Linked DNA regions of Homo sapiens: region 1 is linked to region 2. Evidence: fine-mapped expression QTL. Tissue or cell type: prefrontal cortex. Region 2 holds a variant in brackets; the other region holds the start of a gene. All regions are shown on one strand. Distances are from middle to middle.

Region 1 (8,273 bases), 180 kb after region 2:
CAAGGTAACAATCCCCCATTCAACAGACATTACTGCTGACACGTCAGGCTCTTGTATAGGTCCTGGGATGCAGAGGTGAACAACACAAGCCCTGTCCTCATGGAATTGACTTGTGGTGACCTCCTTGGGTGGTGGTGGTGGTTGTTTTAAAATAGACTTTATTTTGTAGAACAGTTTTATAGTTATATAAAAAAATTGAGGAGAGAGTATTTTTGTATACCCTTACCCAATTTTCTCTATTGTTAACTTTTTTTTTTTTTTTTTTTTTTTTGAGATGAAGTCTTGCTCTGTCGCCCAGGCTGGAGTGCAGTGGCACGATCTCAACTCACTCCACCTCCACCTCCCAGGTTCAAGCAATTCTCCTGCCTCAGCCTCCCGAGTAGCTGGGATTATAGGCATGTGCCACCATGCCTGGCTAATTTTTTGTATTTTTAGTAGAGATAGGGTTTCACTGTGTTAGCCAGGATGGTCTCAATCTCCTGACCTCGAGATCTGCCTGCCTCAGCTTCTCAAAGTGCTGGGATTACAGGCGTGACCCACCGCGCCCGGCAACATCTTAACATTAGTATGGTAAATTGGTTACAATTCATAAAGCAAGATTAATACATTATTATGACCTAAAGTCTGTAGTTTATTCGGATCTTCCTAGTTTTTAACGTATTGTCTTTTTTTTGTTCTAAGATTTCATGTTACATTTAGTCATCATGTCACCTTACGCTCCTCTTGGCTGTGACAGTTACTCAGGCTTTCCTGGTTTGACAGTTTTAAGGAGCCCTGGTCAGGTATATTGAAGGATGTCCCTCTTTTGGAATTTGTCTATTGTTCTCATGATTAGACTGAGGTTATGGGTTTTGGGAGAAAGATCACAGAGGCAAAGTGCCATTTTCATTCCACATCAAGGGGACATAGTAACAAGATTATCACTGTTGATGTTGACCTTCATCACCTTGGCTGAGGTCGTGTTGGCTATAAAGTTACTCTTTTTTCCCCTTTCTATACTGTGCTCTTTGGAAGGAAGTCATTCTGTGCAGCCCACACTTAGGGAGTGGGGAGTTATGCTCACCCTCCTTGAGAGCAGAATATCCACATAAATTATTTGAAATTCTTCTTGGCCGGGTGCAGTGGCTCACACCTGTAATCCCAGCACTTTGGGAGGTCGAGGAGGGTGGATCACGAGGTCAGGAGTTCAAGACCAGCCTGGCCGTTATGGTGAAGCCCCGTCTCTACTAAAAATACAAAAATTAGCTGGGTGTGGTGGTGCATGCCTGTAGTCCCAGCTGCTCAGCAGGCTGAGGCAGGAGACTTGCTTGAACCCAGGAGGCAGAGGTTGCAGTGCGCCCAGATCATACCACTGCACTCCAGCCTGGGCGACAGAGCAAGACTCGGTCTCAAAAAAAGAAAAAATAAATTCTTCTGCAAAAGAGAGTTGCCTCTTGTCTTTCATTTATTTAGTCTATCATTTATTTATATCCACATGGACCCATGGATATTTATTTTACACTTGGGTTAAATCAATACTACCTTATTTATTGCTCAAAATTTTCTAGCTTTGGCCATTCGGAGTTCTTTCAGTTGACTCCTGTGTCTCTCTGACATATCCCCATCAGTGTAGGGTTTTCTGAACATTTCCTTACTTTCTGGCACAAGATACTGCAGGCTCGCCTTGTATATTTCCTGCTGCAGTCCTAGAATGAGTCACTTCTCTAAGGGGCCCTGGTTCCTTTTATTAAAGAATGATATTATAAACCAAGATCTGGGGTCTGGGCATGGTGGCTCATGCCTGAAATGCCAGCACTCTGGAAGACTGAGGCTGGAGGATTGCTTGAACCCAGGAGTTCCAGACCAGCCTGGGCAACATGGCAAGACTGTCTCTACAAAAATAAAAAAATTATTTGGGCACTACTCAGGAGACTGTGGTGAAAGGACTGCTTGAGCCTGGGGAGGTCAAGGCTATAGTGAGCTGTGATCACACCACTGCACACCAGCCTGGGGAACAGAGCAAGACCCTGTCTCAAAACAAAACAAAACAAATAAAAACAAACCCTGAGATCTGGGGCAGTAGGTATACTCGTCGTTACTGGAGATGTTTGGGGTTTTTTTTTTAATGGTAGTTTTTTTAGATTATAAAAGAAACACATGCTCATTATAAAAGATAATTAGAAAATGCAAAAAATGTATGCAAAAATCAATTTGACTATTCCCACTATCCACTACTTTTTGCTTTTTCTCCTCCTTGAATTTACACAGCCAGAGCTGGAATAACAGATTGGGGAGGATAAAGAGACAACTACCTTTATTCCACAAAATTGTGCAAGATGTGCTGACATAAAGCACATGGTGGGTCACTGCCCCAGTGGCACTCAAAGTCTGGAAGCTCTTCCTGGAATCATAGGAGGGAAGAACTGGACAGGACCTTGAAGACCACCTGGTCCAGCTCCTTGTAAATAAAGATGGTGGCTGCTGGGAGGTGGGGAGGTGGTTCTCCATGTGGGGACTGTGGCTTACCTAAAGTCAAACCACAAGGTAGTTACAGATCCTGGCCCAGACTGAGTGCCAGGGACCTGATTTTAATTCAACTATGTTTTCTGATGTGCTTTTTCAGTGCACTAAATATTATGATTTGGCGTAGTACAAGCTAGCAATTAGGAGAACTAACTTTGGGATCAGACAGACCAGATTTGAGTTCTAATTGCTGTGTGACATTGAGCAAGTTTCTTAACTTCCCTGAGATGAGTTTCTTTTTTCTTTCTTTTTTTGTTTTTGTTTTGAGAAAGGATCTCACTCTGTTGTCCAGGTTGGAGTGAAATGGTGTGATCATAGCTCACTGTAACCTCTGAACTCCTGGGCTCAAGCAATCCTCACGTTTCAGCCTTTTGAGCAGCTAGAACCACAGATGTGTGTCACCATACCTGGCCTATTATTTTTTTGTGTGTGTGGAGATGGGGTCTCGCTATATTGTCCAGGCTGCCTAGAACTCCTGGTCTCAAAGAATCTTTTCCAAGAGAGACTCTGTCTCAAAAAAAAAAAAAAAAAAAAAAAAAAAAGAAAAAGAAAAAAGAAAGAAAAGTATATAATAACTTGTCAGAGGTCCCACAGCTGGTAAATAGCAGAGTTCTGTTTTGAACCCATACTGAATCCAGAGCCTCTAAGTTCCTAATCATTACATGAGACTTCCTCTCTTTTTCTTAGTAATGAAGATAATAATCATTCCTATCATAAAGGATAATGGAAAATTAAATGAGAACATCCACATAAAATACTCAGTGCCTACCATGTGTTACCCTCCAACAATTGTAACCATATGAAGTACATAGCTGTTTGCAAGTTGCTTTGATTTGATTTGATTCATATATATTTTTTGAGACAGAGTCTCACTCTGTTGTCCAGGCTGGACTGCAGTGGCGTGATGACAGCTTACTGCAGCCTCAACCTCCCAGGCTCAAATGATCTTCCCACCTCAGCCCAGGTATGCAAGTTGACTTTAATACAATTGTGAGGAAAAGTGAACAGGTGCAAAATTATTTGAGACAGTTAATATTAAGCTTTGGGAACGGAAGCTACTTGTTACCGGACTTCTGATTGGAATCAGGGCCACACAATGCCTTTCAGCTCCCATGGTCTTTCTTGGCCCTCTAATCATGGATTCTCTCTTACACTCTTATTCCAGTAGTTTTCTGAGCTTCTTATTCTCTGGATTAGCCATCCCCTGAAAAAAGGCAACCAAACTTCCTAGTGTGTGTGTTCTACGTGAAGAAAGAAGATCATGTGTCTAGTTCCAGAACACACCCTCCCCACCCCCGGCCTCAACCAGAAATCCAATTCTTCCCTGCTGACCCCTTTGAGAGACCTGGAGGGACAGAGAATTGACGGTGGGTAAAGGGTAAGATGTTGGAGTTTAAGGGTTCAGGCCTGGACCAGGAAGCTGTCTTAACAGCCTAGTGTGGGGCCATGGAAGTGAGTTCTGAAATGAAGTGGAAGGCAGGCCATCCGCACTGAGATGCAGCAGCTGGAACACAAAACTCCAAGGTGACTGTTAACTTTTCCCCAGCCTTCCAATCTCAGACTTTCCTCAGGAAACACCAGGCTCTTCTGAATTAGTCGCGAGCAGAACCATCGTCCTTTCCTTCAGAACTCTGACCAGTTTGAAACTGTCTAACTTCTTAATGTGGCTATATGATCGTTTGCAGCTGGCCTGCAACTTGTTCTGGGAATGGAACCTTGGATTTTAGTCACCACTGTCGCTAGCATCCTGCACAGTCAGCCACTTTTAGAGAGCATAATGCAGAGGGGGAAATAAATGAGATTTGGAATAGAGACGGGGTTTCACCCTGCTGGCCAGGCTGGTCTCGAACTCCTGACCCACCCCGCCTCCCAAAGTGTTAGAATCACAAGCGTGAGCCACCGCGCCCGGCCCCACAAATGTAAGATTTATGCACTTCTCCAAGCCAAGTGCTGTGCATCGAATGGAGGAACTCGTACCTTTGCAGGATTTTGTGATATATGTGAAATAATCCGGACATGCTTCTGCTATGGTTGTTTGTCGCCATAGTTTGCGAATCTGGGTAAACCTGGATGAGAGAGACGCCTTACAATTGCAAACATTTCTCAGGAGGCCGCCTGAAAACGCCCAAACCATAGAGCTCAGTTCCTAGCTAGGCCTCTACCAGCCACTTCCGCTCGTCCGCCTAATACCGCGCCTGCGCACCGCGTCTCTTCCTTTCTGGGCTCGGACCTAGGTCGCGGCGACATGGTGAGTGTGGGTCTCTGTGCGGCCTAGAACTCTATCTGCCTGCATCTGTCCTTGTTTTCTTCTCCCGCACCCATCTCCTCTCCTGCCTTACCCCGTGTTCTCTCCTGTCTCCATGCCTTTGCAGGAGACACCATTGTCGGAAGCTCCCCAAGGCGGAGGGGCGGGGGCGCCTTGGCTGGGCCTGGCGCGCTCCAGCCGGGTTAACGCCGGGCCTTCGGAGCGCGCGGCCAGCCCTGGGCACTGGTTTCGTTGGGTTGAATTTAGGGAAAACTAGGTCATATGTAATTCACATGTCGGTCACACGTCAGTGAGGTGGAGGAACGGTGTGTGGAGGCTCCAGGGCCTGCCTGGGTTCCAGGTCTATCACTGGTTTCTCCCTTCACTCTAAACAGGCCAAACGTACCAAGAAAGTCGGGATCGTCGGTAAATACGGGACCCGCTATGGGGCCTCCCTCCGGAAAATGGTGAAGAAAATTGAAATCAGCCAGCACGCCAAGTACACTTGCTCTTTCTGTGGCAAAGTAAGTAAGGCAAAGTCTCTGGTGAGAGGAGAGGGAGGGCAGGTTTCTTACCCAAGTGAGGCCTGACTTCAAGGTATTTTATAAGCCGTGTGCTGGTGGGCAGTTGGAATTACTCATACCGTTGATTATGAGTTTTAAGATAAAAGTGTTGATGGTAACTTCAGATTTTGTGAGACGTTTTTCATTTAAAGAAAACCGCTTAAACGTTAATGGGTAAAATAATCATTTGACAGAGTGCCCCCAGCCTAAGCCAAACCTGCTTTGTGGGAAATGATTCCATCAGTTTTGTCTACTGATGTTTCTGCACCAACTCCCAAGATGTCTGTGCATCTAATACCATTCTACTTGTTCTGCGAGGGATTTTTGTTTGATAAAGGTTTGAACGTTTATGTGCAAAATACTGCATTACAGCAATCCCTGTTTTGTTTTTGAGGGAGAAAGGGAGGCTTTCACATCCCTGACAATAAGGTGAATCCAAATTTAGACTTCTGGATGCTTGTAAGAGAAAATACTTACTTGGTTCATAGTGAAAATTGGTTCTCTTTTATAGACCAAGATGAAGAGACGAGCTGTGGGGATCTGGCACTGTGGTTCCTGCATGAAGACAGTGGCTGGCGGTGCCTGGACGTACAAGTGAGTCTAGTTCCTTGTGGTATTTGGAAGTGTGTGGACCACATAGGCCCAAATTCCAGGTTGCTGCTGGATGGGCTAGTTTTAACACTTTCTCAGGACTGAGAGAATAAGGATGCCTTTGTATTTTCAGGATTCTTCCGTGGTGGTTTATTTTCAGTTATTGAAAGAGTAAACACAAAACTACCAAAATAGAAGTCGGAAATCTAATTCACAGACTACTTTAGAATTTGATGGTCACTGGGCACATTGTTGTGAACATTGTCATGATACTGTGCAGGTCCATTAGTGGGGCTGAATCTACTGAACGTTGATTTGCACTGCAAGTTTTGATAAAAATAGGTGAAGGGGTCAGTTAGTTCAAAACTGTATTTGGAACTTGAGGCCATCAGGACCACCACAGTTTCGTCTTTCTGAACAGTATTAGACTGCTGCAGGTTTGTGAATCTGCAACTCAGTATCACCTGACAGGGCGATACTACAAACACTATACTACAAACTAGCATCTAGACCTGTGTTGTCCAATACACTAAGCACATATATGGCTAGTGTAATTAAAGAATTGGATTTTAAAGTTTCAGTCAATTTAAACTTAAACCGAAGCAGTGGAAAATGTTGAAATATATATATATTCCTTGTGGGGGTTTTTATTAGGGCAGAATGGAAAATGGGAACTAGAGTGCTTTCTTGGTTCTGATAGGAAAGTGAATTATTTATATACTTACAATACAGGATGGTGATTTTCAGGTATAGTTCCTGAATTTTATGGTAAAACTTTTGTAGTCATTTCAATAGCTGTCTTTCCCAAAGGCACTTTAGTGTCCGCTCTTATTTCCTTAATCATTGTTCTCACTGTATCATCTTGTAATTTATTCATTTCTTGTAATCTGTCCATTCCCTTTTAATAAGTTTAGGTCAGCCTCTTAGAACCATTTCTTTTTCATGGGATGGGGTAGGGGGAGTTAAAGCTTGCTTGTCCACAACTGAGTTACTTATAAAAAAAAAAGCAACTCTGGTTGAGAAATCAGATGCATGAGATTGTATGTCTAATTCTGCAAGATCCTGAAGGCATGGCTCTTAAAGGATGCCATCATGTAGTTTAGAAGCCACTAATTTCCGAGGAGTAATCTAATGTTGGTTAGATCTTTGGATTGACTGCAGCAAAGTATTGGTAGAGCAGTCTATCTCAGTATAATTCTTTCTAGGAAAATTTGGGAAGCGACTTTAACACAAAAACGAGGCAGATTTACTTATTTGCCATTTTCTATGTTAACATGCTTAATTATGTTGGAAACTGAATCTTTCTTTCCAGTACCACTTCCGCTGTCACGGTAAAGTCCGCCATCAGAAGACTGAAGGAGTTGAAAGACCAGTAGACGCTCCTCTACTCTTTGAGACATCACTGGCCTATAATAAATGGGTTAATTTATGTAACAAAATTGCCTTGGCTTGTTAACTTTATTAGACATTCTGATGTTTGCATTGTGTAAATACTGTTGTATTGGAAAAGCATGCCAAGATGGATTATTGTAATTCAGTGTCTTTTTTAGTAGTCAAATGGTAAAATGCAGCATAAGAATATAAGTCTTCCAAGTTAGATATGAGTGTTAGCTTTTTATAAGTCTGCTCCTGCCAGTTTGACTTTGAGATACATTGGAGCCAACTGTAAACTTTAGTTTTTAAATTACAGTTAGTTTTTTTGTTTGTTTTTGAGGCGGAGTCTCTGTTACCCAGGCTGGAGTGCAGTATACCAGTCTTGGCCCACTTCAACCTCCACTTCTTAGGTTCAAGCGATTCTCCTGCCTCAGCCTCCTGAGTAGCTGGGATTACAGGCACGCACCACCATACCTGGCTAATTTTTGTATTTTGAGTAGAGATGGAGTTTTCACCACATTGGCCAGGCTGTTCTTGAACTGACCTCAAGCGATCCACCTGCCTTGGCCTTCCAGAGTGCTGGGATTACAGGTGTGAGCCACCACGCCCAGCCTTGCATTTAATATTTTTATAATGTGTCTAGGCTGGGTGCGGTGACTCACGCCTGAAATCCCAGCACTTTGGGTGGCTGAGGCAGGTGGATTACTTGAGGCCAGGAGATTGAGACCAGTGTGGCCAACATAGCAAAAACCCGTCTCGACGAAAAATACAAAAAATAGCTTGGTATGGTGGCACATGCCTGTAATCCCAGCTACTTTGGAGGCTCAGGCACAAGAATCACTTGAACCTACGAGGCGGAGGTTGCAGTGGGCCAGGATCGTGCCACTGCACTTTATTTAGCCAGGACAACACTCTGTCTCCAAAAAAAAGTTTCTGAAGGTAAAAGATATACTAAAGGATATACATATACTGCCTCTTCTATGATGTTTCATTTGACC
Region 2 (8,000 bases):
CAGGTCTGTCTGATCTGCATCACTGGAGCCCTCCAGAGCAGGGCTAATCCCTAAGGGAGGCGACATCCTCCATCAGGGTCTTTCTATCCCTGGTTTAGACACAGTCACCATCCACATAAGCCCTCTGCTCAATGTTTTCTCTTTTCCCAGGGAAACAAAGCCCTTTGCTGCTCTGATTCATCGCCTGGTTGGAGGCCGAGTCACCACAGCTCAGACGCAGGTGTCTGGGGGTGACACAGCGCGACACTGCGCCTCCGGAATAAGGGCAGTCCTTCCGCCTTCGAGGCTGTGAAATGTCAGGCATGATTAGAAAGGTCACTTGTCCTGATAGCTCTCTGTGCTTCCCGGAGAGCAGCCTTCCTGCTGAGAACATTCTTAATTGTGCTTCCTGCTGTGGGGTCCCTGCCTGCTCACGCCCCTTTCTAAAACGGAGGCCCTATCTTCCTCCTAGTCCCTCTTGAACATGTGGGAAAATTGCTGAGGACTGCAAAATCTTGCAAAAACAGGGCAGCTCTCTGATTCAAGGAAAGAGATGAAAGGCAAATTTCTAGAACGGGGTATTGCATAGTGGAAGAAGGAAATTTCATTCTTGAAGAAATGAAATAGGTCCACAGTCCTGGGAAATGGGGGGCGGGAGAGGGGTGCGGGGACAGGGTCAGAAGAACTGAGGCACAAAAAAATAGATACACCCCCAAATCCCAAAATTATACCAGTAGAGCCAGGAACTAAGAGTAGTGTCAAGGTACTAAGTAAAAACTGAACACTGAGACAGAAGTTCCTAAATTGCTATGTACTTCTTGCCCCACCCCCAGAACTTCTGATTCTGCAGGTCCAAGGTGTTGTCCAGAAATCTGCATTTTGAAAAAGGTACCCCAGGTCATTGAGAAGCAGGTGATCTGTGCACTTTACTTTGAGAATCCTGGCATAAGGGATGAGGAGAGACTAGTCACTGGGCACATCAGAGGACTCCAAGGGGGAATTCCTTACATTTTGCTCAACAGGAGTGGCTACGGACGTCTGAGTAATCTAAGCATGACCAGCATGGGATGAGGTGGGAGAGGGGGACTGCCTGCAAGGGAGGGAAAGGATGAGCACTCTCCAACCTTCTCCAACCTTCTAACCTCTTCAGCCCAAGCTGGTCTGGAAGGGGCTTCTGAACCTGTCAAGTCCAAGCCTGATATGAGTGCCCCCACCCCCCAAAGCCATACTCTTTCATTGGCGTCTTTATAGAGGACCTGCTCTCCAGTGATACATTGCTGGACAATTATCTTATGGCAGAGCCATTGGTTGGTAGTGTTATTTTCTTATCTCATAGAAGTTTCTGGGGTAATGGGAATATTTTTATGTGTATTTAGCTTTTATCATATCTTGTCAGGGAAATGCAGCAGGAAGGTTGGGCTCTAAAACATTAAATCCAACTAAACCCCCTCTCCTCCCATGAGGAGCCAATTTGGGTGCCCACATGCAACATCAGCTTCCTAATCCTTTTTTGTTTTTTTTTAGAAACAGGGTCTCACTCTGTCGCCCAGGCTGGAGTGCAGTGGTGTGATCTTGGCTCACTGCAACCTTCCACCTCCTGGGTTCAAGTGATCTCATGTCTCAGCCTCTCAAGTAGCTGAGATTACAGGTACAAGCCACAACGCCTGGCTAATTTTTGTATTTTTAGTAGAGATGGGGTTTCGCCATGTTGGCCACACTGGTCTCGAACTCCTGACCTCAAGTGATCCACCCCCCTTGGCCTCCCAAAGTGCTGGGATTACAGGCATGAGCCACCATGCCCAGCCCCTAATCCTTTTAAAGCAAGCTTTTTTTACACCTCTCTATAAGCGGGTAAAGTAGAGAAAGCATATGACCGGGTCGTGTGGTGATGGCGTGAAGGATATGAATGGAAGAGTAAACAGTGGACACATTGACTATCAGAGAATTCTGCAATTCCAGGACAGTTTGTGCTGATGGAGGACAATAGAAAGATCTCAGCCATTGTGCCAGCTGTCTGACACTGAGAAGGTAAAGGGAGTAGGTGTGAAGATTACTAGGAAAACAAGAGTTCTTCCAAGCAAATGCAACCAGCGCTTCCGAGGCTGATCTTAGATACAAGCTGTGGAAATGAAAGCATGTTGCTCATTGCAGAATCTTTCCTTCTTACAGCAGGAAGCTCGATTCAAGTCACCAGCAGAAAACAGAGTTGCCTTCATGTCTTTACTCTCAAGGTTCTGCAGGTTAGTGCCTCGATCTAAGTTTTCCTTACCTTGGCACAGGTCATCCTTAAATGAATGTTACAGCAAGGGAAGCAGGCAGTTCCTCACCACCTCTGTTGAGCAAAATGTAAGGGAAAGGGAGCCGAAGCAGAAAGCATCCTTAAGCGGGCAAACGAACGCCCCTCCCAGGCCAGCCAACTGCTGTAGGGGACGGGGATGTAGCAGTGAACAAATCAAACAAAGCCCTTGCTCTCAGGGGACTCATTCCAGCAGGACAAGATAGACTTTAATAAACAGGTAATTTCAAAATATATATGGGAGGGGGTCATAAGTGCTATGAAGATAATTAAATCTCAATAAAGGGATGGAGAGCAATGGAAAGTACCAGAGGGGTTCAGGGAAAGCCTTAGGTGATGAAATTTGAGCAGAGACTGGAAGGAAGTGAGGGAGTGAACTGTGTGAATATCAGAGGGAAGACCAGACAGGGAGGAGGGCAAGTTCACAGGCCCTGAGGTAGGAGCAGGCTGATGTGAGAAAAGAGGCTGCCGTGAATGAGAATGGCAGGAAATGAAATCAGAGAGGTGCCAGGGGCTCCACTGCCCAGGGCCTTGCTGTCATGATGGGACTTTGGGTTAACACACAGAAAGCGCTTACAGCTAAAGAGATTTTCCTCACCCCCAAACTTTAATGATGTGACTAAGAAAAAATCATCAAAGCTACTTCTTTAGGGGATTTTAAAGACACAGATTTCAGAAAAGGGACACACAAAAATGAAAGCAGTCTATGTAGGGGAGGTAGGATTATGGATTTTCTTTTCTTTTTTCAAAAAAGAAAAGAATTTGTGATTGCTGAAATAATTCTGGAATATGAAATATATTTACCTTAAAACAAATCTACCTGCCGGGTGCGGTGGCTCACATCTGTAATGCCGGCACTTTGCGGGGCTGAGGCAGGCGGATCACTTGAGGTCAGGAGTTCAAAACCAGCCTGGCCAACACGGTGAAACCCTGTTTCTACTAAAAATACAAAAATTAGCCCAGTGTGGTGGCGGGTGCCTGTAATCCCAGCTATTTGGGAGGATGAGGCAGGAGAATCGCTTAAACCCAAGAAGCAGAGATTGCAGTGAGCCGAAATCGTGCCACTGCATTCCAGCCTGGGCAACAGAGTGAGATTCCATCTAAAACAAAACAAAACAAAACAAAACAAACACAAATCTACCACCACAGGGGCAATGGACAGGGGGTGCTTCTGTATCCCCAGTGTTTGGAATTGTACCCAGTGCACGGCAGACACTCATAAATGCTCGTGGAATCAATGAAATGAACCTCTTGAGACAGGTTACATGTCCTGTCTAGAGCAAGAGAATAAGAAACTATCCAGGCCCTACCTGAAGCAAGTCAATATAATCCTAATTTCTTTACCTCATTCTTAGAGTTTTGCAATTTTCAAATTATTCATGCCCTATAGAGAGTTTGATAATTAAAGAAATACTATGATTTTGAGCACAGAAGCTATAGAAACTTTTATTGGTCTCTTGGGAAACATAATAAGCCTCTTCTTTGACTTCAGGCTCTGGATTTTCTGCTGAAACTGGTAATGGGAGAAACAGGATTGAATAAGGAAATCTACACTAGATGCTGGGATTTACATCCCCAGCCCGTCACTCAAACTGCCTCCTTCCACAAGGACTGAGATGCCAAACTTCCCAGGCTCACTACTCTCAGGATGATAGAACTAATACCCCCAACTGCTTGGCCTGCCCTCACAAACAGCACTTGCCATTGTCATCTAGAAAGCCACATTCCTCACCAGAGCCTTCACTTGCTGCCTGGCTGGTCCTTGACATGCTCCTCCAATCTGGATGTTTCTGTGAGTTTAGAAGCTGAATCATTAGTCAATGCCTTGGTTGAGTGTTTCTTCCTCTCCCCAGTGTGATGGGTGGTGTTAAAGGGAAAGTAAAAAATCTGCCACAGAACTAAGATTACTGTAAGACACAAAGATATATTTAGGGAACATAAGGGACTCATTATTAAACAAACCCGTAAACTATATCAGCTGTTAAGGTATTACTCCTTCCATATTTTCTGAGAAGCAAATAAGAAAGAAGGATGCCATGTATTAACTCTTTTTGACCCAGTTCCTATGGGTGCTTTATTCCCTGCCTCTCTTATGAGGATCCAGTTTAGTGAATAATAAACACTTCCAGTGATTGAGTCCTTACTAAAGGCCAGGTTCTCTAATAAGCATTTCACATTGCTTAACTCATTCAATCCTTTGGGGAAGATATTATTATCCCCATTTACAGATTGAAGCAACTGAGGCTTTGAGGCATGAAATCATTTACTTAAAATCACACAGCCAGCAAATGGGCAACCCAGGTTTAAAACCAATGTCTACCCAATTCCAAGGCCCATGTTTTAAGCCACTACCCTATTATGCAGCCTCTCATAGCAGATAAGGTTGTAGAGCTATAGCCTCTTTTTCTTTCTTTCTTTCTTTCTTTCTTTCTTTCTTTCTTTCTTTCTTTCTTTCTTTCTTTCTT[TCTTTC/T]TTTTTTTTTTTTTGAGATGGAGTCCCACTCTGTCACCCAGGCTGGAGTGCAATGGCGCGATCTCGGCTCACTGCAACCTCTGCCTCCCAGGTTCAAATGATTCTCCTGCCTCAGCCTCCTGAGTAGCTGGGATTACAGGCATGCACTACCATGCCTGGCTTTTTTTTTTTTTTTTTTGTATTTTTAGTAGAGACGGGGTTTCACCATGTTGGTCAGTCTGGTCTCGAACTCCTGACCTCGTGATACACCTGCCTCGGCCTCCCAAAGTGCTGGGATTACAAGCAGAGCCACCGCACCCAGATGCCTCTTTTTCTTTAAGTAAGATTTTGCAAAATTTCTCTGAAGTTGAGTAAGAGTGAAGAATAATGATGTTGGAATGCCAGAGCTATAATACACAGTTCAAAACTAGAACTTTGGAGCGAGACAAGAAGTTCTTTTAGCCCAGAAAATAGGCTTCCTACTGTCTGTAGGAAACTCTTAACTCTTCAGTCAAGACTCCAGGGCTTCTCACAATCTGGACTAATTACCTCCCATCCATTCATTCAGTCAAACAAATATTAAATTAGATACCGACTATGTGCCAGGCAATAGGAATGCAATGGTAAATACAAATAGAATGGCCCCCACTCTCATGAAGCTCATCATTTTGAGGTGTATGGATATATATACAATTAACATATGTATATCCATAATATCTAAAATAACATGAAATTGCAATGGTGGTTAAGTTCAATGCAAGACAGAAATGTGGTGCTGTAAGAGGGGATTGGTCGGTCCTTGAAGGAATGATGCTTGAGCCAAGATATGAATGATGGCTAGGAACTGAGTTGGCAAAGAGGGGAGGGAAAATGCTAATGGAATAATCCACCCATTCTGTCCTTTCTCCCTCTCAGCTTGCCATAGCGGAAACCTGAATCTTGTTAAATGGAGATGGGCAATACAGGCAATGGATCCTTCAGGTCTCCTTCTTCCAAGCAAATGTAGCCCTGGGAACACTTTCATTGAAAAGAAAGAAGAGACAAAGTGACTGGTGACTGGTGATACAAAATCAGAATAGGGATATTGGTATTTTATCTTCCAATATGTCTTCTGGACTTCTTGGTGATACTACTAATCAGGCGGGAGTGCTGTTGTCCCATATACTGCATTTGTATGACTCAGAAAAAGAAGCCCATTCCTCCAGGAAGAATCAGCCTTGGGCATCTTGCTTGAGGAGGAGAGCATGGGCTCAATTTCTATTGCAGTGACTAGCTTCTCCAACCCAAACCAGCTACTCTTCTCCAATGAACAACCTGAACATCCACACATGGTGGACCTGTGAATAGACCTTTGTTTTACAAGTTGCTGTGACTGAAATGGCTGTGAAATGAGGACTAAACTGACCGCAAGCATTGTGCACAATGAGGTATACTTAAGGGGATGTGTGTGTGTGTGTGTCCTGGTAAATAACTGAATTGCCAAAGATGTCTACAGAAGTCCAAGGTGGGTAACAAGAATGAGAACCAACAAAGGCAGCATCTCCTAAAATGTGTTTAGCAGGACCAACTTACCAGGAGATAATGAAAAAGCAAGAGGTGGACCTCAAGTCATTAGGAGAGAAGAAAATTAAAACCAGACGATTGGCCCACTGGTGATAAGTTGCCTGGAATAATCAGAGAATTTGAAGGCTGGCTTGGTTATCCCTGGAATCTGGCCCAATTCTGGTTTATAGCAAATGTTGTTAACTAGGGGGTCCATCAGTGACCTTCAGGGGACCTGTGAACCTCCTGAAATTACAGTATTATTTTGCATGTATGTGTGCATACACACTTTTGCTGTGGAGGGTCTTAGCAGTCATCAGATTATCGGATTAAGAACTGGTCTCGGCCAGGCACGGTGGCTCACGCCTGTAATCTCAACACTTTGGGAGGCCGAGGCAGGCGGATCACCTGAGATCAGGAGTTCGAAACCAGCCTGGCCAACATGGCGAAACCCCATCTCTACTAAAAATACAAAAATTAGCCGGGTGCGGTGGTGGGTGCCTGTAGTCCCAGCTACTAGGGAGGCTGAGGTGGGAGAATAATTTGAACCCAGAAGGTGGAGGTTGCAGTGAGCCAAGATCCTGCCATTGCACTACTGTCACCTGGGCGACAGAGCGAGACTCCGTCTCAAAAAAAAGAACCGGTCTCAAGATACACAGGTGACCCAGCTGGGTGGGTCAGAGTGCATTTTGTTGAACATGGAAACATTATACCATAAGATGTCCTGTTAGAAAACAAAGCTATTTACTATTAAGGCCAAGAAAGTTGTAATTTTTCTTGGAAAGAAGCTACTAATGCCTCAGAAGAACCTTTTTCCTCTTGTATGGAGTTTGATCACCTTGCCCATAAGAATCCAATGGTAATTCTCTGAGAGGCTTGGGTTTTCTGAATGAGTGTACCTAATATTGAATAAGCAAAGTGTGTTCCTCATTAGATGTTCAAACTGATACCCTAGTAAGTTATATTTACATTCTCTCAACCTCCTTAAGCTTATAGTAATTAATTTTCTCCTTTTTTGCAATCATCCAAATGAGTGGGTAAGAATCTGGGCCCTGGAGTCCTTCAATCTGAAATGCAAGATATGGCTCTTCCAGATACCAGTTGGAGAGGTTTGTATGTAATTTTATCACCCTGAATTTCAGTTTCAGCACTTGGTAAAATGGAGATAATAATAGTATCTACTGCACTGTCAACATTAGACAGATCAACGAGACAGAAAGTCAACAAGGATACCCAGGAATTGAACTCAGCTCTGCGCCAAGCAGACCTAATAGACATCTACAGAACTCTCCACCCCAAATCAACAGAATATACATTTTTTTCAGCATCACACCACACCTATTCCAAAATTGACCACATACTGGGAAGTAAAGCACTCCTCAGCAAATGTAAAAGAACACAAATTATAACAAACTATCTCTCAGACCACAGTGCAATCAAACTAGAACTCAGGATTAAGAAACTCACTCAAAACCACTCAACTACATGGAAACTGAACAACCTGCTCCTGAATGACTACTGGGTACATAATGAAATAAAGGCAGAAATAAAGATGTTCTTTGAAACCAACGAGAACAAAGACACAACATACCAGAAACTCTGGGACGCATTCAAAGCAGTGTGTAGAAGGAAATTTATAGCACTAAATGCCCACAAGAGAAAGCAGGAAAGATCTAAAATTGACACCCTAACATCACAATTAAAAGAACTAGAAAAGCAAGAGCAAACACATTC

Alleles and levels. Positions count from the first base shown, and alleles are read on the strand shown. Sizes are in standard deviations (SD) of each study's normalised expression.
In carriers of allele TCTTTC in region 2, the expression in prefrontal cortex of the gene that starts at base 4,625 in region 1 tends to be higher than with T alone (large effect, 1.1 SD a copy in BrainSeq).

The links. PIP is the estimated chance that this variant, and not a neighbour inherited with it, causes the effect.
Region 1: RPL37A-DT starts here. The variant in region 2 is fine-mapped to the expression of RPL37A-DT in prefrontal cortex (BrainSeq, PIP 0.91).

The regions. Positions count from the first base shown.
Region 1 is chr2:216,494,128-216,502,400 of GRCh38, forward strand. It overlaps RPL37A-DT (RPL37A divergent transcript), which reads right to left and starts at 4,625. Exons shown (of 4, transcript NR_183317.1): 1 at 4,480-4,625. It overlaps RPL37A (ribosomal protein L37a), which reads left to right and starts at 4,717. Exons shown (of 4, transcript NM_000998.5): 1 at 4,717-4,750; 2 at 5,143-5,271; 3 at 5,822-5,904; 4 at 7,214-8,273. The coding sequence starts at 4,748. The coding sequence ends at 7,277. RefSeq lists a silencer at 1,962-2,031 and enhancers at 4,134-4,223, 4,404-4,793.
Region 2 is chr2:216,315,930-216,323,929 of GRCh38, forward strand. The region is part of intron 1 of MARCHF4 (membrane associated ring-CH-type finger 4); the gene reads right to left. It overlaps MARCHF4-AS1 (MARCHF4 antisense RNA 1), which reads left to right. Exons shown (of 3, transcript XR_001739877.2): 2 at 2,149-2,219; 3 at 5,640-8,000. Among named protein-coding and RNA genes, the nearest start is that of MARCHF4-AS1, 17 kb to the left of the region's middle. RefSeq lists enhancers at 1-758, 2,779-3,510, 3,511-4,242. The variant TCTTTC/T (reference allele first, on the strand shown) is at 4,741.